Linked DNA regions of Homo sapiens: all the other regions are linked to region 4. The links come from fine-mapping of genetic effects on gene expression. A gene starts in region 4. Each other region holds a variant in brackets. All regions are shown on one strand. Distances are from middle to middle. Region 1 has its middle 190 kb from the start of POMZP3. Region 2 holds the start of YWHAG (tyrosine 3-monooxygenase/tryptophan 5-monooxygenase activation protein gamma). Region 3 overlaps POR (cytochrome p450 oxidoreductase). Region 4 holds the start of UPK3B (uroplakin 3B). Region 5 overlaps YWHAG (tyrosine 3-monooxygenase/tryptophan 5-monooxygenase activation protein gamma). Region 6 overlaps CCDC146 (coiled-coil domain containing 146). Region 7 overlaps DTX2 (deltex E3 ubiquitin ligase 2).

Evidence for each region. PIP is the estimated chance that this variant, and not a neighbour inherited with it, causes the effect.
Region 1: its variant is fine-mapped to the expression of UPK3B in whole blood (TOPMed, PIP above 0.99).
Region 2: its variant is fine-mapped to the expression of UPK3B in whole blood (TOPMed, PIP above 0.99). The same link has a PIP of 0.9 or more in lung.
Region 3: its variant is fine-mapped to the expression of UPK3B in whole blood (TOPMed, PIP above 0.99).
Region 5: its variant is fine-mapped to the expression of UPK3B in whole blood (TOPMed, PIP above 0.99).
Region 6: its variant is fine-mapped to the expression of UPK3B in whole blood (TOPMed, PIP 0.98).
Region 7: its variant is fine-mapped to the expression of UPK3B in whole blood (INTERVAL, PIP above 0.99).

What each region holds. Positions count from the first base shown.
Region 1 is chr7:76,811,090-76,815,164 of GRCh38, reverse strand. No RefSeq gene overlaps it. Among named protein-coding and RNA genes, the nearest start is that of POMZP3, 190 kb to the right of the region's middle. The variant C/G (reference allele first, on the strand shown) is at 2,463.
Region 2 is chr7:76,357,814-76,361,813 of GRCh38, reverse strand. It overlaps YWHAG (tyrosine 3-monooxygenase/tryptophan 5-monooxygenase activation protein gamma), which reads left to right and starts at 2,823. Exons shown (of 2, transcript NM_012479.4): 1 at 2,823-3,092. The coding sequence starts at 3,006. It also overlaps the pseudogene PPIAP81. RefSeq lists silencers at 2,489-2,898, 3,219-3,418, 3,502-3,692 and an enhancer at 2,748-3,394. The variant C/T (reference allele first, on the strand shown) is at 2,212.
Region 3 is chr7:75,977,704-75,981,778 of GRCh38, reverse strand. POR (cytochrome p450 oxidoreductase) reads right to left here. Exons shown (of 16, transcript NM_001395413.1): 4 at 2,200-2,328; 5 at 1,291-1,440; 6 at 607-731; 7 at 173-262. Among named protein-coding and RNA genes, the nearest start is that of TMEM120A, 15 kb to the left of the region's middle. The variant A/G (reference allele first, on the strand shown) is at 1,858.
Region 4 is chr7:76,508,472-76,512,546 of GRCh38, reverse strand. UPK3B (uroplakin 3B) reads right to left here and starts at 1,995. Exons shown (of 6, transcript NM_001347684.2): 1 at 1,810-1,995; 2 at 1,495-1,644; 3 at 665-890. The coding sequence starts at 1,894. It overlaps LOC124901675 (a long non-coding RNA gene), which reads left to right and starts at 1,814. Exons shown (of 2, transcript XR_007060388.1): 1 at 1,814-2,023; 2 at 2,439-4,075. RefSeq lists enhancers at 1-631, 1,385-1,957, 1,958-2,530 and a silencer at 3,408-3,613.
Region 5 is chr7:76,344,944-76,349,010 of GRCh38, reverse strand. The region is part of intron 1 of YWHAG (tyrosine 3-monooxygenase/tryptophan 5-monooxygenase activation protein gamma); the gene reads left to right. Among named protein-coding and RNA genes, the nearest start is that of YWHAG, 12 kb to the left of the region's middle. The variant T/C (reference allele first, on the strand shown) is at 2,489.
Region 6 is chr7:77,272,191-77,276,265 of GRCh38, reverse strand. It overlaps CCDC146 (coiled-coil domain containing 146), which reads right to left. Exons shown (of 19, transcript NM_020879.3): 10 at 2,477-2,572; 11 at 1,614-1,784. The region is part of intron 2 of LOC102723791 (a long non-coding RNA gene); the gene reads left to right. Among named protein-coding and RNA genes, the nearest start is that of CCDC146-AS1, 26 kb to the right of the region's middle. The variant T/G (reference allele first, on the strand shown) is at 2,187.
Region 7 is chr7:76,478,504-76,482,578 of GRCh38, reverse strand. DTX2 (deltex E3 ubiquitin ligase 2) reads right to left here. Exons shown (of 11, transcript NM_001102594.3): 3 at 1,802-2,158; 4 at 1-71. The coding sequence starts at 2,069. Among named protein-coding and RNA genes, the nearest start is that of DTX2, 19 kb to the right of the region's middle. The variant G/T (reference allele first, on the strand shown) is at 2,183.

The DNA of each region.
Region 1 (4,075 bases), 300 kb before region 4:
ATTAAATTCTTGGAAATATATGACCTCCATTGAACCAGGAAGAAATTGAATCCCTAAAGAGATCAATAATCAGTTCTGAAATTGAATCAGTAATAAAAAGCATACCAACTAGAAAAAGTCCAGAACCAGACAAATTCACAGCTGAATTCTCCCAATGTATAAAGAAGAGGTGGTATCATTCTTACTGAAACTATTCCAAAAATTCAGGAGGAGGCACTCCTTCCTAACTCATTCTATGAGGCCAGCATCATCCTGTTTCCAAAACCTGGCACAGACACAATAAAAAAAGAAAGCTTCAGGCCAGTATCTTTGATGAACATAGACGCAAAAATCCTCAACAAAAACTAGCAAACCAAATCCAGCAACACATCAAAAAGCTAATCCATCACAATAAAGTAGGCTTTATACTGGGATGCAAGGTTGGTTCATCATACACAAAACAATAGATGTGATTCATCACATAAAGAGAACAAAAAGCAAAAACCACATGATCATCTCCATAGATGCAGAAAAGGCTTTCAATAAAATCCAACATCCCTTTACGTAAAAAACCCTCAACAAACTAGGCATTGAAGGAATATACCTCAAAACAGTAAGTGTCATCTATGATAAACCAGTGGCCAACATCATACTGAATGGAAAAGGCTGGAAGCTTTCCCCTTGAAAACTAGCACAAGACAAAACTCACACCACTCCTATCCAACATAGAATTGGAAGTCCTAGGCAGAGAAACCAGGTAAGAGGAAGAGATAAAAGTCATTTAAATAGGAAGAGAGGAAGTCAAACTATCTCTGTTTGCAGGTTATATGATTCTATACCTAGAAAACCCCATAGTCTCTGCCCAAAAGTTCCGTGATCTGATAAACAACTTCAGCAAAGTTTCAGGATACAAATCAATGTACAACAATTGCCAGCATTCCTATACACCAACAACATCCAAGCTGACAACCAAATCAAGAATGCAATCTTATTCACAATAGCCACCAAAAGAATAAAATATCTAAAAATACAGCTAACCAGGAAGGTGAAAGAGTTCTACAATGAGAATTACAAAACACTGCTCAAAGAAATCAGAGATGCCACAACAAATGGAAAAACTTTCCATGCTCGTGGCTAGGAAGAATTAATATGGTTAAAATGGCCATACTGCCCAAAGCAAATTACAGATTCAATGCTATTCTTTATCAAAATACCAATGACATTCTTCACAGAATTAGAAAAGAACTATTTTAAAATTCACTTGGAAGCAAAAAAGAGCCCAAGTAGCCAAGGTAATCCTAAGCAAAAAGAACAAAGCTGGAGGCATCAAGTTACCCATCTTCAAATCATACTACACAGCTACAGTAACCAAAACCACATGGTACTGGTACAACGACAGGCATATAGACTAATAGAACAGAATAGAGTACCCAGAAATAATGCCACACACCTACAACCATCTGATTTTCCTCAAAGGTGACAAAAGCAAGCAATGGGCAAAGGACTTTCTCGTTAATAAATGGCGCTGTCATAACTGGCTAGCAATATGCAGGAGATTAAAACGGAATCCCTTCCTTATACCATATACAAAAGTCAACTCATCATAGATTAAAGACTTAAATGTAAAACTTAAAACTATAAAAACTCTGGAAGATAACCTAGGAAGTGCCATTCTGGACATAGGCCCTGACAAAGACTTCATGATGAAGACACCAAAAGCAATGGTAACAAAAACAAAAGTTGACACATAGGACCTAATTTAACTAACCAGTTTCTGCACAGCAAAAGAAACTATCAAGAGAGTAAACAGATAACCTACAGAACAGAAGAAGATATTTTGCAAACTGTGCATCTGACAAAGATCTAATATCCAGAATCTATAAGGAACTTAAACAAATTAACAAGCAATAAATAACCCCATGAAAAAGTTGGCTAAGGACACGAACAGCCTCTTTTTAAAAGACGTATCTGCAGCCAACAAGCATATGAAAAAATGTTCAGCATCAATAATCATTAGAGAAATGCAAATCAAAGCCACAATGAGATACCATCTCACACCAGTCAGAATGGCTATTATTAAAAAGTTAACAAATAACAGATGCTGGTGAGGTAGTGAAGAAAAGGGAATGTTTATGCACTACTGATGAGAATGTAAATTAGTTCAGCCATTGTGGAAAACAGTTGGTGATTTCTTAAGGAATTCAAAACAGAATTACCATTTGACCCAGCATGCCATTATTGGATATATACACAAAAGAATATAAATCTTTCTACCCTAAAGACACATGCATGCATATGTTCATTGCAGCACTATTCAAATAGCAATGACATAAAATCTACCTAATTGACCATCGGTGGTAGACTTGATAAAGAAAATGTGGTACATATCCACTATAGAATGCTATGTAGCCATAAAAAATGAGATCATGTCATTTGCAGCAACATGCATGGAGCTGGAGGTCATTATCCTAAGCAAAGTAACA[C/G]AGGAGCAGAAAACCAAATACTACATGTTTTCACTTATAAGTGGGAGCTAAACACGAGTACATGTGAACCCAAAGGAGGGAACAACAGCTACTGGGGCCTACTGAGGGTGGAAGGTGGGAGAAAATTAAAGATAAAAAAAACTACGTATCATCTGGGCGCGGTGGCTCACGCCTGTAATCCCAGCACTTTGGGAGGCCAAGGCAGGCAGATCACGAGGTCAAGAGATCGAGATCATCCTTGCCAACATGGTGAAACCCCATCTCTACTAAAAATACAAAAATTAGCTGGTCATGGTAGCACACACCTGTACTACCAGCTGCTCGGGAGGCTGAGGCAGGAGAATCGCTTGAACCCGGGAGGCGGAGGTTGCAGTGAGCCGAGATCGCACCACTACATTCCAGCCTGGCAACAAAGTGAGATTCCATCTCAATAACAAAATAAAACAAAACAAAACAACAACAACAACAAAAACTACCTATCAGACACTATGCTTATTACCTGGGTGACAAAATAATCTGTACACCAAACTCCCATGACATGCAATTTACCTATGTAACAAACCTGCACGTGTAGCCCTGAACTTAAAACAAAAGTTAAAGACATGATTTAAACAAATCATATTATAGATACTGATAAAGCTAGTTAAGCACTATGCATCCAATAATTATTACACTAAGGCAAAAATACATTGATTTAAAGTCTTTCTTATTGACTAAATAAATAACATGACTTTCTTATTGCAAATTATACTTCAATCACAGAATTCTACTCCAGTTTAGTTTTCAATGTTTTAACATGAGACAGAAGAGACAAGGAATTTACGATAAGATACACTTGAATTTAAGGCTTGGCTCTATCAGTAAATCTCATGTGAGATGGGGCAAGTTTATTGAACCCTTTCTGTCTCATTTTCTTTTGGGTAACATTGGGATGCTGTGAATATTAAGTTGGAATAATCATATCTAACTTGTCTGGTGCATGTTAAAAGTGCCACAAAAGTTAGTTCTCTTTTCTAATTTTTTGTGGCATTTATTGGATACCAGACTAGTGGCATTTATTGGAAACTACTTTTGAAGTATATACATACATACATATATATATATATATATATATATATATATATATATATATATATATATATATATATCTTTTCTCTTTCCTGCATTCATTTGTAAAAGCCTTGCTAATTATTTTTCAATTATACTCTTACAAGTCAATAATAGAAATAGATTCTTTTCCATTAAAAAGTATATCAAGGATAGAGAAGATGAACTAGCAATTTGGATGAAGAAAACAATTCTAAGCCTAAATTAAACCAATTGCTGGGCATACCTGTTTCCTTGAAAGTCTGAGGTAATTATGCCGCTTCCTGGTGGTAAAGAACTGATGATGTGATTTTATTTTGAATAATCTTTGAGGGAAAAACCATACTTTTTCAGCATTTTCTCATCTTATCTATAGAAAATGGCAACAGATTTAGGTAAAAAGCTCTTTAGGAACTGGTCTTATAAAGTTAGCTCTAATAAACTAAATGTCAATGTGATAAAAACAATCCTTACTAAGGAAAAAAATCGACTTTATGTCAGTTCTGAAAAATATGCTTTGTTGCAAC
Region 2 (4,000 bases), 150 kb after region 4:
CCTGACACATAATCCCTGGAGTAATTCTGTGAAAGTAGGAACCCTTGCCGGGCGTAATGGCTCACACCTGTAATCCCAGCACTTTGGGAGGCTGAGGCGGATGGATCATGAGGTCAGGAGTTCGAGACCAGCCTAACATGGTGAAACACCGTCTCTACTAAAAATACAAAAATTAGCTGGGCGTGGTGGTGCGCGCCTGTAATCCCAGCTACTTAGAAGGCTGAGGCAGGAGAATCGCTTGAACCCGGGAGGCAGAGGTTGCAGTGAGCCAAGACTGCACCACTGCACTCCAGCCTGGGCTACAGAGCGAGACTCTGTCTCAAAAAAAAAAAAAGAAAAAGAAAAGAAAAAAAAAGAGAGAGTAGGAACCCTTATAACCAAATCCTTTCTCTCCAGTGCTCAGAGAACGAAAGTTTTCTGCTGTCTTTACAACACTGTCTGCTAACAGCTCCGATATGTTAACATGGCTTTACAGTTTAGATGAGAGGTCACTTCTTTTTTTTTTTTTTTTTTTGAGACGGAGTCTTTTTCTGTCTCCCAGGCTGGAGTGCACTGGCACAATCTCGGCTCACTGCAAGCTCCGGAGAGGTCACTTGGCTTCTTGGTTTCCATGCCCCTAACCTTGAAGGAGACGCAGCCCAAGGGCTCAATAGTAATGTCAAAGAACACGGTGGGATTGACCATGGCCAGTAGTAGAGTACTCCTGGCAGCAGCAGAGTCTGCAAAGCTCACTTTTTTTTTGTTTTGTTTTTTGATATGGAGTTTCGCTCTTGTTGCCCAGGCTGAAGTGCAATGAAACGATCTCGGCTCACTGCAACCTCCACCTCCCAGGTTCAAGCAATTCTCCTGCCTCAGCCTCCCAAGTAGCTGGGATTACAGGTGCCCACCACCACACCCAGCTAATTTTTGTATTTTTAGTTGAGATGGGGTTTTGCTACGTTAGCCAGGCTGGTCTCGAACTCCTGACCTCAGATGATCCACCCGCTTCGGCCTCCCAAAGTGTTGGGATTACAGGTGTGAGTCACCGTGCCAGGCCAAAGCTCACTTCTTTTTTTTTTTCGAGACGGAGTCTCGCTCTGTCACCCATGCTGGAGTGCAGTAGAGGGATCTCAGCTCACTGCAACCTCCGACTCCCGGGTTCAAGTGATTCTCCTGCCTCAGCCTCCCGAGTAGCTGGGATAACAGGTGGGCACCACCACGCCCAGCTAGTTCTTTTGTATTTTTTGTAGAGACAGGGTTTCACCATGTTGGCCAGGATGGTCTCGATCTCCTGACCTTGTCATCCGCCCGCCTCGGTCTCCCAAAGTGCTGGGATTACAGGTGTGAGTCACCGTGCCCAGCCTTTAAAAAACTTTTTATTTTATTATTTGTTTTTGAAACGGAGTCTTGCTCTGTCGCCAGACTGGAGTGCAGTGGCGCAATCTCAGCTCACTGCAACCTCAAAACTCACTCCTTACTGACTTCTAGCATACTGTACATATCTCACCTATTTTCTTGGGCAGGGATTTTTGTCTGTTTTGTTCACTACTGTACCTCGTGGCTTAGAATAGGGCTTGGAACACAGTAGCTTCTCATAGATAATTGTTGAATACATAAAGTAAATAAAATGTGCAGTCAAAACTATCAGGCCTGCAGGCATGGTGGCTCACATCTGTAATCCCAGCACCTTGGGAGGCCGAGGCGTGAGGATCGCTTGAGCCCAGGAGTTCGAGACCAGCATGGGCAACAAAGCTAGACCCCCGTCTCTACAAAAAAGCAAAACAAAGCAAAAAAACCCATGCTATCTGCAAGCTATGTGGAATAATATGAACGAGAATATATCAGCGTGACCTCAGTAGGTATGTATGTCTTAGGAGGGGAGAGAAGGGCTGGACAACCAAGCCCTAGACGCAGCCCAGTTAGATGTGGAGTAGGCTCCTGGTAGCTGAACTCAATCTTTAGCACTCCACCCTGGAGAGGAAGAAGGGGTTCTCCAGGGTCAGCCAGCAGACAGCTGCATCCTTTCTGGAAATCAACCACTGTGGCCAGCCGGTATTTGTCGTTCGTCCATGTTTTCACCTATTCAGGCCCAAGAGCCTCAAGGTGGGGTGGGGGGTTTAATGGAAGCTCGTAGGGGGTGGAGGTGACAGTCCCCAGGGTCTGGCCCCTTAATTCGGCCATCCCGCGGGCAGGCACCACACTGAGAGTCTGGATCTACAATGGACGCGCCTC[C/T]TGTCCTTCCCCCACCACGACCTGCTACGTGATCTCGGAAACAGGGTCTAGGACTGAGGCCCCTGCCCCCTCCTCTCGTAATTTCCCGGAGAATATGGGGCGGGGCGGTGAATCAGCACTCGCAGGGACTGATGCAGCCCTGATCCCCGCCAGGGGTCCCCAGCGGCCTCGGGATTCGAAGCACCCCCCCCCGTCCTCCTGCGCCTGCGCGCTATGTCCGCTGGGAGTTGTAGTCTTGACCGCCCCTTTGTCCTTGGTCTCCTCAGCGCCTCAGTGCACTGCAGGTTACACTACAACTCCCAGGGGCCCATGCGTCCGAGGGCTGGCGGGGCGGGAGGCTCAAGGGGGAGGCGTAAGGGGGCGACTGGAGAAGCTGGGGTGAGGGAACTGGGGAGTGAAGTGAAAAAAGGGGAGAGTGGGGGCGCAGTGGGAAAGGACGGGGTGCCCGGAAGACGCGCAGTGAGCCCAGCTGGGGAGCGGGGAGTTCTAGCCGCGGCCGGGCTCGGGCGGGGCATGGGCGGGGCTTGCGGACGGGTGGGCGGGGCCTGCCTTCGTCATGCGGCGTGGGCGGGGCCGCAGGGGGTTGTCCGTCAGTGGCACGCACAGCAGCCGCAGCCGCCTCGCGCCCGGTCCCGCGGTCGCAGCTCCAGCCGCCTCCTCCGCGCAGCCGCCGCCTCAGCTGCTCGCTCTGTGGGTCGGTCCTCTCCGGCACTTGGGCTCCAGTCGCGCCCTCCAAGCCCTTCAGGCCGCCCCAGTGTCCTCCTCCTTCTCCGGCCAGACCCAGCCCCGCGAAGATGGTGGACCGCGAGCAACTGGTGCAGAAAGCCCGGCTGGCCGAGCAGGCGGAGCGCTACGACGACATGGCCGCGGCCATGAAGAACGTGAGTGTCTCCTCCCCTCCCCCGCCGCTCCCTGCCCCTCCGAAGACGCGGTCCTTGGCGTGGAAGGCCCGGGGCTTCGTCGCCCTGTCGCGATGGCGGGTTGACCGCCCCGTCTCGCTCACTGAGGGGGGCTGGGGAGGGTCCCGAGAGGCGACGGGAACCCGGGCTGTGACGCGGCCTCTTTTCGGAGTCCCCGTGGCCCCGCGGCGCTGCCATTCAGGCCCGGCGCGGGCGCGGGCCGGGGCGAGGTCCCGCGGGGCTGGACTTGGGAGCGGGGTCTCCGGCCCCCGCGGCTCTAGGGGTGCAGGGGACCCGAGCGGGGAGGCGTGCGCATCCTTTGTGCCCCACTTCCCCCCTCCTCCTAGCCTGGGCGTGGGGGCGGGGGACCGCATGGATGCGGTTCCTCTTTCTCTCCCTGGTGTCTGGGCGGCGCCTTTCCCATTCACTCAGCAGGTCTCCCGGTTTTCCACCTCCCCAGCCCCCCCAGAATCTTCCCCACTGTCTGTCCCGACACATCCCTGAGAATCTTCCCAGAAACATTGTATAGGGTCTCTTGAAAACCTGAGCTCCGTGGTGCAAAATCGAAACCACCTTGCTCACGTTTTTCTTAACAAAAGGCTCTTCTTTCTCCATTCGCCCAAAGCAAGTCCTCCGGCTTTTAGGAAGGGAGAACGTTTGTCTCGCTAGCGTTTTCATTGATCATTCTCAACATGTCATCTCCATTTTATTCCCTAATGTTTTTGTATTGAAAAGGGTAGGTATTGCCTGTAAAATTAAAAGGTGGTGAATGTAGCTGACTGGTTCGATTCGTGTGACATATGCCGTTTCTTTTTTGAATACAGGCACGCGTCTGTTGAAATTCCTATAAGTTGGGGGAAAAAATATTCTGTCTGATCTGATAGTGCAAA
Region 3 (4,075 bases), 530 kb after region 4:
CAGAGCAACGTGGCAGAGTGAGTCCTTGGCTGGGACCAAGGTCCCTCCTCGACCCTATGACGGAGTGTCTTCTAACCTTGCTGCGACCCACTGCCAGCCCTTGTTCCAGGGTGGCTGCCCTCGGCACAGGACCCGCCCAGGCCACCCACCGCACCTGCGGGCACTTGCTCACCTGGACTCCTCGCCAGTGGCTTCCACCCCAAAGTGTTCACACACGGCCGGCCAGAACTGCTCTCGCCAGGTGATGAAGTCCTCCTCCAAGCTGGGCCGAGGAGAGGAGAGGGGGAGCGGCTCAGGGGAGGCCCATGTGGCAACGGTACCTGGTGCCAGGCACGCCCCGACCCCACCCCATCCCCAAAGCTCAGGACTGTGCACCCTGGGGCACCCAGCGACATAAACCCAGAGCATCAGGAAGGCTCCAGGGAGTTGGGCAAGCCGAAAAGCAAAACTGGCAGGGGCAGGGCAGAGGCAGGAGAGCCCCTTCCCTCTGTGTTGGAGGTGCGTGTCGCTGAGTCTCAGCTGACACAATGGTGTGCGCGCCCCTCACGTTCCACGGCCCCTGCCTAAGCCCGCCGCGCTGATCATGGTGGCAGGGTGGGCACTCACTTCCCATCGTCGTCGCCCAACCCCAGCTCAAAGATGCGCTGGGCGCCGAGCTGCTCCAGCCGCTTGTCCACGTACTTGCCCATGGCATTGAAGTGCTCGTAGGTCTTGTTCCCAAGACCAAACACCTGCGTGGACACAGGGGCCGCTCTGAGGCCTGGCCCTCGACCTGACCAGTGGGAGGGGCCATGGGGGCAGGGCGGGAGGCCCCACAGCACTGGCTGAGCTGCTGGCAACACCTGCAGGCCTCCGTTCCACCAGGCGCCTCGCACTGCAAGGAACACTGGGCCACTGAAGAGGCTTCATCTGGTTGACCTGCAGCCCACAGCCTGCCCCGTCCACTGCCAGCCTCAACCCACAGGGAAGCGGGGCCAGCCCACCCTCCCCACCGGGCTGGGGCTCCAGCTCTCCGAGGCCAGGCAGGTCTCAGTCGTCCAGCCAGACCTTTCTTGCCTTTAGTCTCCAGCACCCAATGCCCCCTGGAGCCGACTGGGGCTGGGGACAGGGAGGGGACATTCTCGTAGTGCTGGGGTCTGGGGCAGAGGAGAGGGTCTCACAAGTGGCCTGCCCTGGCTGCTGAGGACAGGGTGGGGGTCTGGAGGGCTGCCTTTCAGATACATGGATCTGGAGTCCCCAGGGAGGCACCGCAGGCCACCGGGAGCCCATAGCAGTCTCTGGGTGACTCACCGCGAACTTGACCCCAGAGAGATCCACGTCTGTCTCCTGCAGCCAGTCGTAGAAGTCCTGGGCATTGTCGGTGGGGTCTCCCTCACCGTAGGTGGCCATGCAGAAAACCACCAGGGCGTTGTCGATCTCTGGCAGGCTGCTCAGGTCGGCCTGCAGAAACAGGGACAGGACCGCGCCCCGGCCATGACTGAGCCTGTTCAAGGTTCAACCCGCACCAGATGGGGAAGGCCAGGTCCTGCCCAGGGTGGCACCAGGCCAGGGATGTCTGAGTGTCGTGGGATCAGAGAGAAGTAACAACACGGAGGGGCTGGGGCATGGGCATTTGTGCCAGGTGGGCAGGACAAGGTCACCCGTGTTAGGCTGGAGCGGAGAGGATGTGTTTCTAGAGGAAAGTGAAGCTTGGCACAAAAGAGCCATCAGAATGCAGCCTCCTGAGCTGATGCAGGTCTGGGGCCACCCTGGGAACCTCATTCCAAAGCTCCCAGGCACCGCACAGCCCCGGTGCACACTGATATCTAACTAAACTGTTCATCAACTGCAAATGCAGCCTGGAGAGGGCTGTGGGGT[A/G]GTGCCCGTCACCAAGACCTCGAAGGAGAGGGGAGTGGAGCAGCTGGGGAGGGTGGGTTTGGTTTGGGAGATGTGGCGGCCGCCAGGAGGGCAGCCGGCACTCAGGGGAGGGCCAGTCCTGGGGAAACGATGCCTGGCACGTGGCTGCAACTGCAGGAATGGCCCTTCCGTCAGTCAGCCCGGGCAGGGATGGCAATGACCCTCACGGGAAGGCAACTTCCGAGGACGTCTTCCCAGGACCCCACTCCCTGCCGGCCTCCCCCTGCTGAGGGGCGCCCTACAGACCTGCTCCCTGTCCTACCCACTGCCTCCATCTGGGGCCAGCACGCGGTGGCAGCTTACCAGGTCATACTCCTCAGGGTCCGCTGACATGCCTCGCATCCCGTAGCGGTGGGCGTCCTTGGACAGGCGGTTGGCAAACTCCTCTGCAGTCCCCGTCTGGGAGCCGTAGAACACGATGATGTTCCTCCCCTAAGGAAGGCAGACACAGGGTTGGTGAGGGCCACAGACCTCAGCCACGGCTCCGGTGAACACCCACTGGGCAGGCCTGGCAGGCGGGGGCCCTCCAGGCCGCCCCCTTTCCTTCCTGGCTTTGAGTCCCTTCTAAGTTCCTCTGGGACTTGCTTCTCACTGTCACAGCCACTGTGGCAAAGGAGGGCAAAGGTCACCAAGGCAATCTCACACACGCGGCTGCTCAAGATCACACTTCTGACATTTTCATGACACGGGGAAAAAACAAAGTTAAAAAAAGTAACCAAATGTATAGCCCCTATCCGTGGGGGAATGGTTCCAGGACCTCCCATAGATACTTACATCCAAGGATGCAGCCGGGCGTGGTGGCTCACACCTGTGATCCCAGCACTTTGGGAGGCTGAGGCTGGCAGATTACCTGAGGTCAGGAGTTCAAGACCAGCCTGACCAACATGGTGAAACTCCATCTCTACTAAAACTACAAAAATTAGCCGGGCATGGTGGCGTGCACCTGTAATCCCAGTTACTAGGGAGGCTGAGGCAGGAAAACAGCTTGAACCCAGGAGGTGGAGGTTGCAGTGAACTGAGAACACGCCACTGCACTCCAGCCTGGGTGACAGAGCAAGACTCCACCTCCAGTGGCTCACGCCTATAATCCCAGCACTTTGGGAGGCCAAGGCGGGTGGATGACTTGAGGTCGAGAGTTCAAGACCAGCCTGACCAATATGGAGAAAACCCTGTCTCTACTAAAAATACAAAATTAGCCGGGCATGGTGGCACATGCCTGTAATCCCAGCTACTTGGGAGGCTGAGGCAGGAGAATCGCTTGGACCTGGGAGGCAGAGGTTGTGGTGAGCCGAGATCGCGCCATTGCACTCCAGCCTGGGCTACAAGAGCAAAACTCCATCACAAAAAAACCCAAAAAACAAAAATCCAAGGATGCTCAAGTCCCTGCTATAAAATGATGTGGTATTTGTGTGTAGCCTACACACATCCTCCAACATACTTTAAATCATCTCTAGATTACTTATTAATGTAATACTTAATGTAATGTAAATTCTCTGTAAATAGTTGCTATGCTGTATTGTTTAGGGAACAGTAAGATGACAGTATGTGTTCAGGACAGACACAACAATCCATTTTTTCTCCAAATATTTTCAGTCTGCAGTTGAATTCTTGAACTCCGAACTCACGGATATGCAGGGCTGGCTATACAATCCAATTGTGTTATATAAATAATAGATATGTATATCAAAACATACATATGTATTTTCTTTCTATACCCACAGGCACAAAGAAAACAGACTGGCAAGAAATATACCGAGGGTCCCTAAATGGGGCATTCTGGATGTGTTTTGCTGGTTAAATACATATTCATTATAAAATTTTACAACAGGGAAAGGTCCTAGGGGCTGGCTCACATACTCGTCAGTCCACCCTCCTCCTCCAGCAGCTGTTGAAAAGCCTGAAATCCTATTCCCCAGAGCCCGTTGGGGCTGGAGTTGCAGCCAATTCGGTTCAGCCAATTGAACGTGCTTTGCAAGATCTGAAGGGTGGAAGGGAGGCCAAGGCTTCCTGGCCCCTCATGCACATGTGAGGTTCTCTGCAGTGCCTGGTCTTCAGTGCCTAAGGCATTTTTCTTTTTTTCTTTTCTTTTTTTTATTTTTGTGTGTGAGACGGAGTCTCGCTCTGACGCCCAGATTGGAGTGTAATGGCACGATCTCAGTTCACTGCAACCTCTGCCTCC
Region 4 (4,075 bases):
CATGGAGCTGGAAGGCTGAGCCAGGGTGAGGCAGCGGGGAGGGCAGAGGGTGGACCTGGAGAGTGGGTGAGAGGGCAGAAGGGGGCTGGGCGGAGCGGGGTGCTGTTCCAGCCTCACCACGCCCTGCCTTCCCGGCTTCCCCTGGGCCTGGTCTTCCTGAGGTCACCCCGCCTCCTCCTGTGTCCGGACAGTCCTGACCTGGACACACTGCCTGCTTCCCCATCCCGGCTCCACCCCGATGTTGGCAGGCCACTTGACCTCCTGTGCCTCAGTTTCCTCATCTGTAAGAGCGGGTAGGAGCCACCTCTCCTGCTCCCTGCCTAATACCGACGAGACTGGGTCTGAACTCGGCCCCCGAGTTTCCTGCCAGATCTGCCCGTGGTGGGGGACAGGGGCCTAGACTTTGGGGAAGCTGCCCCCTCCCACCTTGACTAAGATCCCGCCTCCCCAAGGTGCCCACCTGCTCCTCCTGGGCCTTGCCCGGCCCCAGCGGGGGTGAGCACTGTTGCTGACTCTACAGTGGAAGGAGCCCGGGCTTGCAAAGGGGAGGACCGGGGCCGGGGACCCCTCCCTGGAAAGATGCTAGAGAGAGCATCCCTGGTCCCAGCAATGCGTCCGCCCCAAGCACAGCCCCAGTCCCAGGGCTCCGGTGGGGACCACCCACCGATAGGGTCCAGGGCCAGGGAGGGGCGCGTTGCAGAAGGGCTGCTGGTGGCAGCCGTGGTCATGGCCCACCCGCAGCACGGGGGCGCCTCCGCTGCCCGCCATGGGGTCGCCACAGGGCAGCTGGTCCGGAGACAGGGGCAGCGTCATGTAGTGGCCATCGGTCAGCAGCTGTGGGGAGGCCGGAATGTCAGCCAGTGTCTCCGGGTTCTGGAAGCCCCTGGAGGCTGCAGGAGGAGAGAACAGATGGAGGTGGGAGGGGAGAAAGCAGCTTTGTCCTTATGAGTGGGGGTTCTGTGTTCGCCCAGTCTCCAGCCCTGACCCCCCATGCCACCTCCTCCCTCAGGGCCCCCAGAGATAGTCCAGACCCAGTCGACTTTGTTACCCCTGAAGGGGAGCTTCCCTCTGGCCTTTTGTCCCCACCCAGAGCCAGGAGTGGGGAGCAGCGGGCAGTCCCAACCTGCCCAGCCCCAGCCCCAGCCCCATTGCAGTGCACCGGCCCTGCCCCACAGGAGGCCACATCCTCCCAGGTCGCAGCCTCGGTTCCCTGTCCAAAGGAAGAACTACTTGGATTCAGAGAAAGGGTTGCAGAGCCCTTGACAGCTGACAAACCCACCACTAGCACTACTCCCGGGATTTGGTGTTCACTACGTGTGTATTTTTCAATACACATATTACCCCTTTAGATAAAGCCCAATTCATCCACACCTACTCTCCCAAAGGCCCCCACAGGGGCTCAATCATTGAAGGCGCTTGCTGGTGAGGGGCTCCTAGGGCCCACCACTCTCCTCAGCCGTCACCCTCACCCAGGCCCCACAGCAGTCCCCGTACCATTGCTGAAGGCCACCACGAGCCAGACGGTATCGCTGGCGCTGGCAAGCCCATCGAAGACACAGCGCGGCTGCTCCAGGGAGAAGGTGGTGGCTGTGACCTTCCCTTCCAGGTCCCAAGCTGTTATCTGTGGTGTGTAGGGCACCAGCTCTGTGGCCACGGGGGACAAAAGGTGAGCCACGGAGACGGGCGTGGGGGTCCCTGGGGCTGCCTCTCCCAATCGGAGGGGGGCGGGCGCCCAGGGTCCAATCACTCCAGCAGGGCCCCCAGCCCCTTGGGTCTGGCTGGACGCGTCCATCCAGGACCCCCACTCACCCAGGCTCAGGCTGGGCCGGAGACAGTTCAACGCCAGGAGGAGCATCTGCAGCCCTAGGTGAGGCTGCCCCCAGGGTAGCCCCATGACAGCTGCCAGCACCCGGGAGGCTCAGGGGCTGGTCTGGCTGCTTCGGGCTGCACCTCACCCCCAACAGCTTGGCCCTGGAGAAGCTGGTTAATCAGGCTGCCCCAGGGGCTGGAAAGACCTGCAAATGTAAGTGCACCCCACCCCCTTCCTCCCAGGCCAGCCCACAGCAGGGAGGAGCTGGGGGGACTCTGGTGGGAGGCAGGCCAGTATCCAGCCCCACTGCCAGGGCCAAGGGAGAGGGGCCACTGGAACCCCAGATGCCAGCCAGGCCATCCCGGAGCCTGGATTGGGGCCCCTCCCAGTCTCTCCGCCCTGGGGAGGAGGGTCTGGCTTTTGGAAACAGGCTCAGGACCACATGCCTGAGATTCCTGTGCCCCAGGTGCCAGGAGCCTCCCTCTGCCTTCTGTCCCCACCCAGAGTCAGGAGTGGGGAGTAGCAGGCAGCCCCAACCTGCCCAGCCCCATCCCCATCACAGCACGCTGGCCCTGCCCCCCACGAGGCCACATCCTCCCAGTTCGCAGCCTGGGTTCCCTGTCCACAGGAAGAAGAACTTGGATTCAGAGAAAGGGCTGCAGAGCCCTTGACAGCTGACAAGCCCGCCACTTAAACACTACTCCCGGGATTTGGCGCTCACTATGTGTGTATTTTTCAAGACATAACTCACATACCTTCACAACCTTCACAGCTCAGTGGCTTAAATATATATATGTCACCCAGGGAGGTCAGTTCACAGCTAACTGGAGCCTCAAACTCCCAGGTTCAGTTAATCCTCCCACCTCAGCCTTCCCAGTAGCTGGAACCACAGGCACACAACACCATGCTCCGGCTAATTTTTAAAATTTATTTAATTAATTTTTTTTTAAGATGGAGTCTCCTTTGTTGTCCAGGCTGGAGTGCAGTGGCGTGATCTGGGCTCACTGCAACCTCCGCCTCCTGGGTTCAAGCGATTCTCCTGCCTCAGCCTCCCAAGTAGCTGGGATTACAGGCATGTGCCCCACGGCCAGCTAATTTTTGTATTTTTAGTAGGGACGGGGTTTCACCATGTTGGCTTGGCTGGTCTCAAATTCCTGATCTCAAGTGATCCACCCGCCTTGGCCTCCCAAAGTGCTGGGATTACAGGCATGTGCCACCGTGCCTGGCACCCCCGCCAATTTTTTTTTTGTTTTTTTTGAAACGGAGTTTTCACTCTTGTTGCCCAGGCTGGAGTACAATGGCTCGATCTTGGCTCACCGCAACCTCCACCTCCTGGGTTCAAGTGATTCTCCTGCCTCAGCCTCCTGAGTAGCTGGGATTACAGGCATGTGCCACCACACCTGTCTAATTTTGTATTTTTAGTAGAGATAGGGTTTCTCCACGTTGGTGAGGCTGGTCTCGAACTCCTGACCTCAGGTGATCCACCCACCTCAGCCTCCCAAAGCGCTGGGATTGCAGGTGTGAGCCACTGCGCCCGGCTGGCCAATTTTTAAAAATGTATTTTTTATAGAAACAGGATCTTGCTATGTTGCCCAGGCTGATCTCTAACTCCTGGGAGGATCAAGCAAATCTCCTGCCTTGGCCTCCTAAAGTATTGGGATTACAGGCGTGAGCCACCGTGCCTGGCTATTTTTTTTTTTTTTTGAGACATGGAGTCTCACCCTGTCGCCCAGGCTGGAGTGCAATGGCGTGATCTCTGCTCACTGCAACCTCCACCTCCTGGGTTCAAGCAATTCTTCTGCCTCAGCCTCCCTAGTAGCTGGGACTACAGGCACCTACCACCATGCCCAGCTAATTTTTGTATTTTTAGTAGAGATGAGGTTTCACCAACTTGGCCAGGCTGGTCTCGAACGCCTGACCTCGCGATCTACCTGCCTTGGCCTCCCAAAGTGCTGGGATTACAGGCATGAGCCACTGCGCCCAGCTGCTAATTTTTAAAAATATAGTTTTTGAGGCTGGGTGTAGTGACTTACGGCGGTAATCCCAGCACTTTGGGAGGCCGAGGTGGGCAGGTCACTTGAGGTCATGAGTTCGAGACCAGCCTGGCGAACATGGTGAAACCCTGTCTCGACTAAAATTACAAAAATTAGCCGGGTGTGGTGGAACGTGCTTGTAATCCCAAGTACTCGGGAGGCTGAGGCAGGAGAATGACTTGAACCCGGGAGGCGGAGGTTGCAGTGAGCTGAGATCGCACCACCGCACTAC
Region 5 (4,067 bases), 160 kb after region 4:
AGTTTGACGTTTACTGTCACCTTGGGAAGCATTTTTATGTACTTTTCCCATTTAATTTCACAACAGTTTTATAAAGTGATAATCTTCTGATTTTAAAGGTGGAAATGTTTAATTTGCCTTAAAATTTTTTTTTTCAAAGTCTAAGGCTCATGGTTTGTAATCCCAGCACTTTGGGAGGCTGGCTGACTCACGCCTGTATTCCCAGCACTCTGGGAGGTGGAGGCGGGCGGGTCACCTGAGGTCAGGAGTTTGAGACCAGCCTGGCCAACATGGTGAAGCCCTGTCTCTACAGAAAATACAAAAATTAGGCCGGGCGCGGTGGCTCACACCTGTAATCCCAGCACTTTGGGAGGCTGAGGTGGGTGCATCACGAGGTTAGGAGATCAAGACCATCCTGGCAAACACGGTGAAACCCCGTCTCTACTAAAAATACAAAAAAATTAGTCGGGCGTGGTGGCGGTCACCTGTAGCCCCAGCTACTCGGGAGGCTGAGGCAGGAGAATGGCGTGAACCCGGGGTGGCGCAGCTTGCACTGCACTCCAGCCTGGGCAACAGAGTGAGACTGTCTCAAAAAAAAAAAAAAAAAAAATTAGCGGGCATGGTGGCGTGCGCCTATAGTCCCAGCTGCTTGGAGGCTGAGGCATGAGAATCACTAGAACCAGGGAGACAGGCTACAGTGAGCTGAGATTGTGCCACTGCACTCTAGCCTGGGCGACACGCTATCTCCAAAAAAAAAAAAAAAAAACGAAGTCTAAGGCTCTTGTTTTAAGTTTTTGTTTTTTCTAGAAAAGGGGTCATGGGTAAAGTGGATACCAGCTGTTGTTTCAATTGATCTCTTTCAATTAATTTTAGCATATGTTCCATTGCTTGCAGATGCATGGAAAATCCTTTTAAACTGCTGCATATTTAATAATTTTTCCATTGGTTAACCTTGAGGTGGTGGCGTGTCATCTAGGTTTAAATACAGAAGAACTCATTTCCTTTAGGACAGTTGAAAGATGTATTACTCAATACAAGTGTAACCCGGTTTCTTTTAGAAAACATTCGATCCCACGATTGCAGTGTGTTTTTTGAATGTCATTTAACAAAGGAGAGCTTGAGATTTTTAACATGAGGTAAGTGCTGTAGTTTTGCTGTTTGGAGTCTTAGAGATATTGCCAGGAGGCATGAGGGTACCACTCAGAACCGAATGGAAGCAGATACCTCACTCAAAAGAAACAGATCTGGGAGGAAGAGAAAACCTTTTGTATAGCAAGTAAAAACCAGAATAATATAGTTTTATGTGGAATTTGCAAACTGGAGTTTGGAGCATGTTTTGAGGATTTGGGTGAAGATCAAAGGAAGAAAAGAGATGCTAGTTATTTATATTGTATATAAGATATTTTCGTAGACATTTGAGTGTTTTTTTTGTTTGTTTGTTTGCTGACACTGATTTTCCCTCTTATTTCCCAGGCTGGAGTTCAATGGCACGATCTCAGCTCACTGCAACCTCCACCTCCCAGGTTCAAGCGATTCTCCTGCTGCAGCCTCCCAAGTAGCACATGCCACCATGCCCAGCTAATTTTTTTGTATTTTTAGTAGAGACAGGGTTGCACCATGTTGGTCAGGCTGGTGTTGAACTCCTGACCTCAGGTGAACCACCTGCCTTGGCCTCCCAAAGTGCTAGGATTACAGGCATGAGCCACTGTGCCCGGCAGACATTTGAGTATTTGGATGTAAGCATTTGAATATTTTGTAGACATTTTAGGCAGGTGAAAGAAATAAATGCACTGATCTAAAATCCTAGGAAAGATACGGTTGTGATGGGAGTCCTGTTGAACATCTGTGGGGATCTTGATTCCACAAAAGAAATTGAAGTAAGCCTAGGGTGCTGTGCTACTGGAGACGGACGCTTAGTTGACACTGGTCGTCAGGGAGGGTTTCCTAGAGGAAGTGATGCCTGCGCAGTGTCTTTGGGAAACTTGAGGGAGGGGGAGAGGTTGGAGGAAGGAATAGCCAGGCAGAGGGCATAGGACGCTTAGTTTCAGGATGGAAAAGGAGAACTGGTGGCGTGATTTGTTTAGTCCTTGTTGGTGGCATTCAGGGAATGCTGTGGTGGTGCGCTTTTTGAGGGAGTAGCAGGAAATGAGTTGAAAGAGGTTAACAGGAAACAGTTCACGAAGGGCCTTCTGAGGTTTGTTTCTTCTTAAGCCATGGTGAGTCTCTTCAGGCTGAAGAGGACCATAATCTAATTTTTGGTGTGGCGAGATCCCAGGCAGCAGTGTGGAAACTGAGTAGGACAGTGAGGCAGAGCAAGGGGAGGCTGAGGAGTAGATTGTCAGGTCTAGTCTTCAGGGACCTGGACAAGAACGGCAAGGGCAGGTTGGAGAGGCAGAAATGGGTGGCCAGAGATAGAAGAAGAAAGAGGAGGAGAAAATGGTGGAAAAGATGAATTCTGGTGTTCTGCTGAATTTGAGGAAACACTTAAGTGGAGGCAAATTAACTTGGC[T/C]ACAGGTCAATTTGACCGCCATTCGTAACAGTGCCCTGGCACAGTGTAAGCAAAGAAACATTTAGGATCCACTAATAACCAGGCTGGCCTAACAGCTGCAGAATATAATATCCTCTTCCCTGGTAGAACTGACATTCAAGAGGGAGCCGCTTTGTATCCATGTGTGTTGGAACCATGCAGAACAAAGGTCACCCAGAAAAAAATGTAGCATCTGTGTCACAGTGTAAAGCGCTAGGGAGTGGTTGGCACTTAAGTAGTGACTGGAACGAGGAAGGAAAGACCAGGAAAGAAGGCTGACAAGGGGAGGAGAGCCTCAGGAAAGAGCGGTCATCAGGGTTAGATGCCTCTGTGAGTTCAGACTTAAGATGAAGACCAAGAGCACTGGATGCCTGGGGTCGGAAGACAGTGACGACTGTGTAGGGCTGTGGGGTTGAGGAGGGAGTGAAACATTGAAGAAATGGTAACAATTGTAGACTTAATTCCAGAACCTTGATTTTGAAAGAACCAGGAAGAGGTGGGATTGAAATGCATCATTTATTTTTTATTTTATTTATTTACTTACTTATTTTTAAATTTTTTTTTGAGGCGGAGTTTCACTCTGTAGCCCAGGCTGGAGTGCACTGGTGCAATCTCGGCTCCCTGCAACCTCCATCTCCCGGGTCCCGGTTCAAGCAATTCTGCTGCCTCAGCCTACCTAGTAGCTGGGATTACAGGCTCGTGCCACCATGCCCAGCTAATTTTTGTATTTTTAGTAGAGACGGGTTTCACCATGTTGGCCAGGCCGGTTTTGAAGACCTCATGATCCGGCCACTTCGGCCTCCCAAAGTGCTGGGATTACAGGCATGAGCCACTGCGCCAGGCCTCATTTTTTTAAATCTTAACTTTCACTGTATGTTAATGGGGAAGAGTAGGAGAGGGACAATAGAAGAATGTAATAGAATGACCAGTGGGAATCCATGGAGGGGGAAGAAACATCTTTTGTTGGCACTCAACAAAGGAGGCAGTGATCAATGCAGCTACTTTTGGAAGAAAGGCTTGGCCAGGTACGGTGGCTCACGCCTGTAATCCCAGCACTTTGGGAGGCCGAGGCGGGTGGATCACGAGGTCAGGAGATTGAGACTATCCTGGCTAACATTGTGAAACCCCGTCTCTACTAAAAAATACAAAAAATTAGCTGGGCATTGTGGCGGGTGCCTGTAGTCCCAGCTGCTCGGGGGACTGAGACAGGAGAATGGTGTGAACCCGGGAGGCAGAGCTTGCAGTGAGCCAAGATCGTGCCACTGCACTCCAGCCTGGGCAACAGAGCGAGACTCCGTCTCCAAAAAAAAAAAAAAAAAGCCTTAGGATAGGCTTAACTAATGGTCACGTTCCTCTATGAAGAAGAGGTGGCAGGCAATAACCTAGGATTGCCAGGCCGTTTGTAGTGACTTCAACCTCTAGTTCTCTCTCTCAGTGTCCCCCTCCCTCACCTAAATCTTGGCTGCAAGAGTGGGAGGAGGGGCAGGGGGTTGGATTGATCTGGGTATTTTAGGGATGGTGTAGCAGAAGGACAAGACAGTGATATGCCTGCAGAAAGAAT
Region 6 (4,075 bases), 760 kb before region 4:
AAACAGACCAAACAGACCACATCTGGGTCATGAGATAAATTCTTTTTTTTTTTTATTTTTGAGAGGAAGTCTCGCTCTGTCACCCAGGCTGGAATGCAGTGGTGCGATTTTGGCTCACTACAACCTCCACCTCCTAGGTTCAAACGATTCTCCTGCCTCAGTCTCCCAAGTAGCTGGGATTACAGGCACCTGCCACCATGCCTGGCTAATTTTTGTATTTCAGTAGAGATGGGGTTTCACCATGTTGGTCAGGCTGGTCTCAAACTCCTGACCTCAAGTTATCCACCCGCCTCAGCCTCCCAAAGTGCTGAGATTACAGGCATGAGTCACCATGCCTGGCCTGATAAATTCTTCTATTTTAGTAATATGTAATATCCTGTTTATTTTTAACAGGGAGCTTCTGGGCATGATCTGGACATAATCCTTATATGGAATAAACAATTCTAATGGTAGAATTTTAGCTTGCATGACAGGAGTGCTGCCTTACCATTTGTTTTATTGTTGATTTTAGGGGGGAATGTTGCACTGGCACTTTGTAGGAGGCCCAGGAAAATCATGGTGTGATGAAGCAACTAAGGGTATCTGGCATTCGATTAAATGATGCTGTCTTGATGAAGTTGGGAGGGACAGTTACCTAATGCTACCACTCTTGAGTTGTTCCTGGACAAATCACAGTGGAGTCTGAGATGGGAGTGAAAACTAAATGATATCTGCAGCCTATGCAGCTGCCAGCCCTGTCCACTGGAGGCACCCACTTTATTCTTACTGAAATTGCCATCTGTTCAAATCCTCCGATCATTATCAATGATCTCCTTTCCCATCTAAATTGTTGATTACTGTTAATTGAATCTTGGGACTATCTTTCAGTGCATGATTGAATCTCATTTAGGGAAGATTTATAGTCACTGGTACTTGAAGGAGAGGCACAGTTATAGTGGTTCCTTGGTATACATAGGGAACTGGTTCCAGGACCCTTTGAGAATACAAAAATCCAAGCATATTCAAGCAGTCCCAAAGTTGGCCCTGTGGAACTCACCTGTAAGAAAAGTGGGCCTTCCATATTTGCAGGTTTTGTATTCTGTGAGTACTCTACTTTTGATCTGCATTTGGTTGAAAAAAATCTGTGTATAAATGGACCCATGCAGTTCAAATCCATGTTGTTCAAGGGTCAATTGTATAGCTTTTCTTTTTTTTTTTGAGTTTCCTTCCAGTTCTTTTTTTAATATTTATATATTTTTATTATACTTTAAGTTCTAGGATACATGTGCACAATGTGCAAGTTAGTTACGTATGTATACATGTGCCATGTTGGTGTGCTGCACCCATTAACTCATCATTTACATTAGGTATATCTCCTAATGCTATCCCTCCCCGCTCCCCTCACCCCACAACAGGCCCCGGTGTGTGATGTTCCCCTTCCTGTGTCCAAGTGTTCTCATTGTTCAATTCCCATCTATGAGTGAGAACATGCAATGTTTGGTTTTTTGTCCTTGCGATAGTTTGCTGACAATGATGGTTTCTAGCTTCATCCATGTCCTAATGCACGTGGCATTATAATGAGGCTACCCTGAACTCTTGTAGTTATCAATGAATGGTTAAAAAAATGCAGTTACCTGAGCTTTCAGGAAATCCTTGGACTTTTGTTCCTTTTCATCAATTTTGATTTGAGTCATGCGGAGAAGGTTGACTACTAGCTCTTTCATGTTTTCTTGCTCCTTTAAAAGCTTGTTTTCTTCTGCAAGTTGTTGTTCTACTAACTTAGACTCCATTTCTGATATAATTTTCTTTTGAAAAAAAACACAGATAATATTATAAGTTATTTGTTTGAAGTAATACAGTAAAGCTAGTATCTTAGACTACCTTTTTACTTCCTATACAAAATGTATTTTTTTAAACAGGCCAGGTGTGGTGGCTCACGCCTGTAATTCAAGCCTTTGGGAGGCTGAGGCAGGATGATGACTTGAGGCCAGCAGTTCAAGACCAGCCTGAGCAACATAGCAAGATCCCTCTCTATAAAAAAAATAAAAATTAAAAATAAAGTAATGGTGTTTTAGCTTCATTGTTTTCATTTTGTAAAATAATGTGAAAATCGATGGGTTAACATGATAGAACCTCTTTGTATTTAGACTGTATTTTCAAGTGACTAAGAAAAAGAAGACACATAAAAACAAACGAAAATTTGAAAT[T/G]AGACATTGGTGAAATAAAACATCTGTGGTTTACTTTTAATGTAATCAACAGCCCATAATTTAAAAATCTCATTCCTTTGAATACTTTTTGCGGTTCAAACATATTCTTTTTTCTCAAATTTAGTGTAGGATTGGAGTGGACTTTGAGATGAAGAAATATGCCCACATGAAGCAGGATCATACTCTCTTTGATGACTCTCTTATTGATAAGGTTTTGTGGAGCACAGTTAAAAGCACAACTTTGTATGAACGCTTCTTAGATAGAAGCTTAAATGAGCATTGATATTAACCTGTTGGGCCAAATTCCTCTTAGCTACTTCAACTTCCTTGTGAAGCTCTCGCCTTCTCTCAGATAATGTAGAATCATCTTTGGGGATAGCTTCCATCTGGAAATCAAAATTTAAAAACATGCATTTATGTAAGAAATAAATCTTTGGGAGGCTGAGGCAGAGAATTGCTTGAACCCGGGAGGCAGAAGTTGCAGTGAGCTGAGATCGTGCCACTGCACTCCAGCCTGGGTGACAGAGTGAGACTCTGTCTGAAAATAAATAAATAAATAAATAAATAAATAAAATTCACTGCTGTGTAGTCAACCTCATCACACACTTTTTGAAAATGCTGAGCAAATCACGAATCTCAATCTTATAAGAACTTCCCTTTATGCCAAATATTCTTTATAAGCCATGGCAAATTAAAATATGAAGACCTGCCAAAAATCTATAATTTGCCAGCTGCAAATGTTTATTATTTAGAAATAAATCTTACTAATAGCTAACATTTATTGAACATAAACCAAGTGTCCAGCAAGGTTCTAAATGCCTGTGTATACGATCTTATTTCATCATTACAATACCCCTCATGAGGTGGGGAATATTTTCTCCAATTGTACAGATGAAGAGAATGAGGCACAAACACATTTAAGCAACTTGCCTCAATGGTGCAGGTGTAAACCCAGGGAGGTAGACTTGGAACCCATGATCTGCCTAACTCATCTAACTCATGACCCAGCACTTTGGAGACATGAATATACTATGACTATTCAAATTATAGTTATTATAAAATGTGAGTACATTTATGAAATTGTATAGGATAAAGAAAAATATGTAATTTATTAATAATAGTGGGGATAGTTTGCTACTTATATATAGTCATTTGATTAGTAGCTGGAAATTTCTTACACAAAAGAAAAGCCTCAACTTTTTGGTTGATACCTAAAATTTCACCATTACATTTCTGTTGTAACGGCTTGCACTTTTCTCCTGTGTTGACGTACTTTAGGGAAAAGGCAAATCTCACTCTTTAAGTCTTTGTTGCCCTATTAGGAATGAGCTTGTCAGATTCTTTGTGATGAAGACGAGAGTAGAGAGGAGGACATGTGGCAGCTGATGGGGAAAGGGTACCATTCAAGGCTACAGGGAGGGTCATCTTGGGGTGCTTCCAGCCTACTTGACTTAGAGCAAGTTTAGAGTTGGCTATTTACACCAAAAGCTCATGACTCCAATCTGATGTGGTTCAGTTCCTACTGTGACAGCACACACTTGTAGGCCCTAAGGTTGAATAATGGCCAAAATTTAGACCCAAGAAAGGAATATCACACTGTCTAGTGATTTGAAGGTTACTTAACAGGATCTTTTTGAGGATCATGCTGCTATGTTAAAGTCACTAAAGTGTGTCTTTGGATGCCCCATCATCCATGAATCAGGGTATCTTCAGTAGCACCTTCTGTACCCTCAGGTGTCCATGTCCTGCTTTTCCATTGGGTCTCCTACCCTGGAGCACTAGCTCTTGAGATGCACACACTGGACTTAGGAAAACGAGATGTGGTCTTGTGAAACATGTCTGACAATATACAGAATGTTGTGGGCTTAACAAACATAAAATTGCTATAG
Region 7 (4,075 bases), 30 kb after region 4:
CTCCCAGACGACACCTCGGCCAGGGGCTGAGTGCTGGGGGAACAGGTGTCTCCGCACAGCCCGCATGGTGCCTATTTTCAAAGGAAAACAAAAGGTTAGTCTGCTAGCATCCCCAAGATACAGGGAACGTTCAAATTCTTTTTTCAACCGCCAAAATAAACAAATAGGAACACAGTAGGTACACAGTCATGCTGCTATTTGTTTATTTATTTATTGTTAGAGGCAGGGTACCCCTTTGTCGCCCAGGCTGCAGTGCAGTGATGTGATCATAGTTCACTGCCACCCTGACCTCCTGGGCTCAAGCGATCCTCCTGCCTTAGCCTCCTAAATAACTGGGACTACAGGCACATGACACCACACCCAGCTAACTTCAAATCGACCTCTACAACACCTGCCACTTTCATTCCCCGATTAACACTTCCTGCTCTCTGCCACGATATGCAATTTCCATGTTATTATTTATCCTGTCTGCTATCTTTCTCAGTTGACTTCACACACTGTGAAGGCAACGACTTGGGAGCTGACTGACAGCCACAGTTTTCACAGACTCTACGACACTCCTGGAAACACATAGTTTCCAGGGCTGGGCATGACGGCTCGAGCCTGTAATCCCAACACTTTCGGAGGCCAAGGCAGGAGGATCACTTGAGCTCAGGAGTTGAAGACCAGCCTGGGCAACACAGGGCAATGGAGACCCAGTCTTTACAAAAAACAAACAAACAAACAAACACGAAAAAAAAAAACCCATACTTTTAAAAATAAAACTAAAATTAAAATTGAAAAAAAAAAGGAAAAACCAGTTTTTCAAGTTTCCTCACTGGTGACACTGTGGGCCAATAATTCCTTACTGCAGGGCCAGCCCAGTGCACTGCCGGATGGCGAGCAGCATCCCTGGCCTCCACCCACCAGATGCCAGGAGCACCCCCACCTCCCACCCACTCAGCTGTAACAACCAACAATGTCTCCAAACATTGTCAGATGGCCCCGGGGACAAAATCACCCCCAGTGACAACCACCAGATTAGAGTAAGGGATGGCTCCGAGAGGAAACTGGTGCCTCATTCTCAATAATACTGATCAAAACACACTGCAGGTCCAGGCGCGGTGGCTCATGCTTGTAATCCCAGCACTTTGGGAGGCCGAGGCAGGCAGATCACCTGAGGTCAGGAGCTCGACACCAGCCTGGCCAACGTGGCAAAACCCCGTCTCTACTAAAAATACAAAAATTAGCCAGGTGTGGTGGTGGATGCCTATAATCCCAGCTACTCGGGAGGCTGAGGCAGGAGAATCGCTTGAACCCAGGAGGCAGGGGTTGCAGTGAGCCGAGACTGCGCCACTGCACTCCAGTTTAGGCAACAGAGCCAGACTCCGTCTCAAAAAAAAAAAAAAAGATCAAAACACATCGCAGACCAAAAAGCAGAAACGCACACATGCAGAGGGGCGCAGTTGCCTGCCCAGGGCACACAGCCACTGAGTGGTGGGACAGGGCCCTCTGAACTCCTATGACGCACCACCTCCATGCCGGCCTGCCGGCCAAAGGAACCCTTCAACCTCTGTGGTCGGGACAGGCATTTCTGCTTTGCAAGACAAGGGGAAGGGCCTCCCACAGTGCCTCTCCCACTGTGAGCTGCACTCAACCTATGTGGATGTTCCCACTCACTGCACCCACCCACCACCACGTGTGCTGCAGGGAGAGAGCAGAAGCTCTGTAAGTCACGTCCATCACCCCAACACCTGGCGCAGAGCCTGTGGGAAAGCAGGTGCGGCACCCAGATATGTGCGAGAGGCAGACAGCGTCTTACCGGTGTCCTGGCGGAACTGGGTCCAGCTGGGGAGGTCAATAATGTAAGGGGCCAGCGAGGGGTCTGCCTGGCCCAAGGGGATGCTGTGGGCCAGGCTCCCAAGCCCAAAACGTTGGCCCTTCTGCTGGACAAACTGCTGCTCGATGAAGCTGCAGACGGTGGCACTGTAGGGGTGCCAGGTGCCCAGCCCGTCCTGCCATTCCCACACGGCCACAGCCGCGGGGCTGGTGTACACCTGCACCAGGGAAGGGCTTGGGGCCATGGCCATCTTCCCAAGGAGTCCCGCTGCTTTCCCAAACAGCTTCAGACCCCTCTGGCCTGGAGTCCCGGGGTCATTGCCCAGCGCCTCCGGCAGATCTGTGAACAGGACAGACATGAGCA[G/T]TTACCAATGCACATCAGTAGCCCTGCAGAATCAGCCTCAGCGCAGGGGAAACACGTGATGCTTTTCCACAGCTGATTTTTTTTTTTTTTTGGTTACAGGGTCTCACTCTCTCACCCAGGCTACAGTGCAGCAGTGTGATCTTGGCTCACAGCAGCCTCAAACTCCTGGTCTCAAGCAATCCTCACAACTCAGCCTCCAGAGCAGCTGGGACAATAGGCATTCACCACCACACCCAGCTCATTTTTTTACTTTTTGTAGAGATGATGTCTGTGTTGCCCAGGCTGGTCTCAAAGTCCCAGCCTCAAGGGATAGACTCGCCTCAGCCTTCCCAAGTGCTGGGATCACAGGTGTGAGCCACCGCGCCTGGTCTCACGCTTGCTTTTCTTCCCCTAACACCTTAAGGGCATCATGAATCAAGAACCTGATCCTGTCTCTTTGCTGTGGCAGCCAGGAAGAATTCAAAGTCAATCCCGCAGCCTACGTACCGCCGCACAGGCCCATGAAGAAAGAGAGCATAAATTCCGGGTGCTAGTCACCAGCCCAGCTTCTTTCTTGCTACTGATAATTCCCCTCTGACCCAACTGCTTAGTGTGTTTCATCATGCATGTATTTTTTTTTCTTTGAGATGGAGTTTCCCTCTTGTCACCCAGGCGTGTGATCTCGGCTCACTGCAACCTCCACCTCCCGGGTAGGTTCAAGTGATTCTCCTGCCTCAGCCTCCCGAGTAGCTAGGACTACAGGCATGCACCACTGCGCCCAGCTAATTTTTTGTATTTTTAGTAGAGACGGGGTTTCACCATGTTGGCCAGGCTGGTCTCAAACTCCTGACCTCAGGTGATCCACCCACCTCAGCCTCCCTATTAGCACCCACCATCCTGAAGATGAGATCCCAACATTTCTTGGAAAGGAGCAGGGTTTGGGACACCCAGGGAGCAGGGGCAGAGCTGGGAACTGCAGCACAGGTTCTAGCTCCTCATGTCTCCCAGGTGCCCTGAAGCATTGCTAACCAAAAAGGAAGCCCTAGATGGGCACCGAATCACCCCTCTCTGGCCTCTCCAAGGCTCTCTGCACCCACTCCCCGACCTGGCCCCTGCTGACCGGCCACCAGGCCCAGGGAGCTCTTCCCCACATCCCGAGCTCCACCTCCCGAGACCTTCTCCTTGCAGTCACTCCAGCCCACCCTCTTCCCTTGCGAACACTCCACGTCCTCCAGGCCCAGCTTGCATCGCTCAGGATGACCCATCACACGCCCTCTGCACCCTCCACAGCACCCACCAGAACCCTAGTAACCGCGTCCACGTGTGGCTGTGACCACAGTCCTTCTGCTCCTCCCCAGGTGGCAGCAACCCCAAGCCTGCTTCATTCACAGCTGCATCACCGGGACCCAGCAGGGGCATGCCACGTGGTGAGTGTTCTAGAATGTTCTACACACTGCTTCAGAATGACAGAGTGAATGTGGACAATGATTCCGCTCAGCACCTGGAGCTGTCTGAATAAGAAGAGGCCTGCAAATGCCCCACCTGATGGCTGCCCCCCAGGGCACCGGCTGTTGGAGTGCCGGTCCAGGGTCCAACATTTAGTAACCAACATCAAATGTACTTGTCTCTCCTAAGCTGCACAGACTGCCAAGGTGACATTTCTCCCACTTACGGACAGGAAACCAAGGCTGAAAGAGGTCAAGGGGACTGGGTGTGGTGGCTCACACCTGCAATGCCAGTGTTTAGGGAGGCTGCGACAGGAGGGTGGTTTGAGCACAGGAGTTTGAGGCCAGCCTGGGCAACATAGTGAGATCCCATCTCTGCAGAAAATTTAAAAGTTAGCCAGGTGCGGAGGTGCATGCCAATAGTCCCAGCTACTCAAGAGGCTGAGGCAGGAGGATGGCTTGAGCCCAG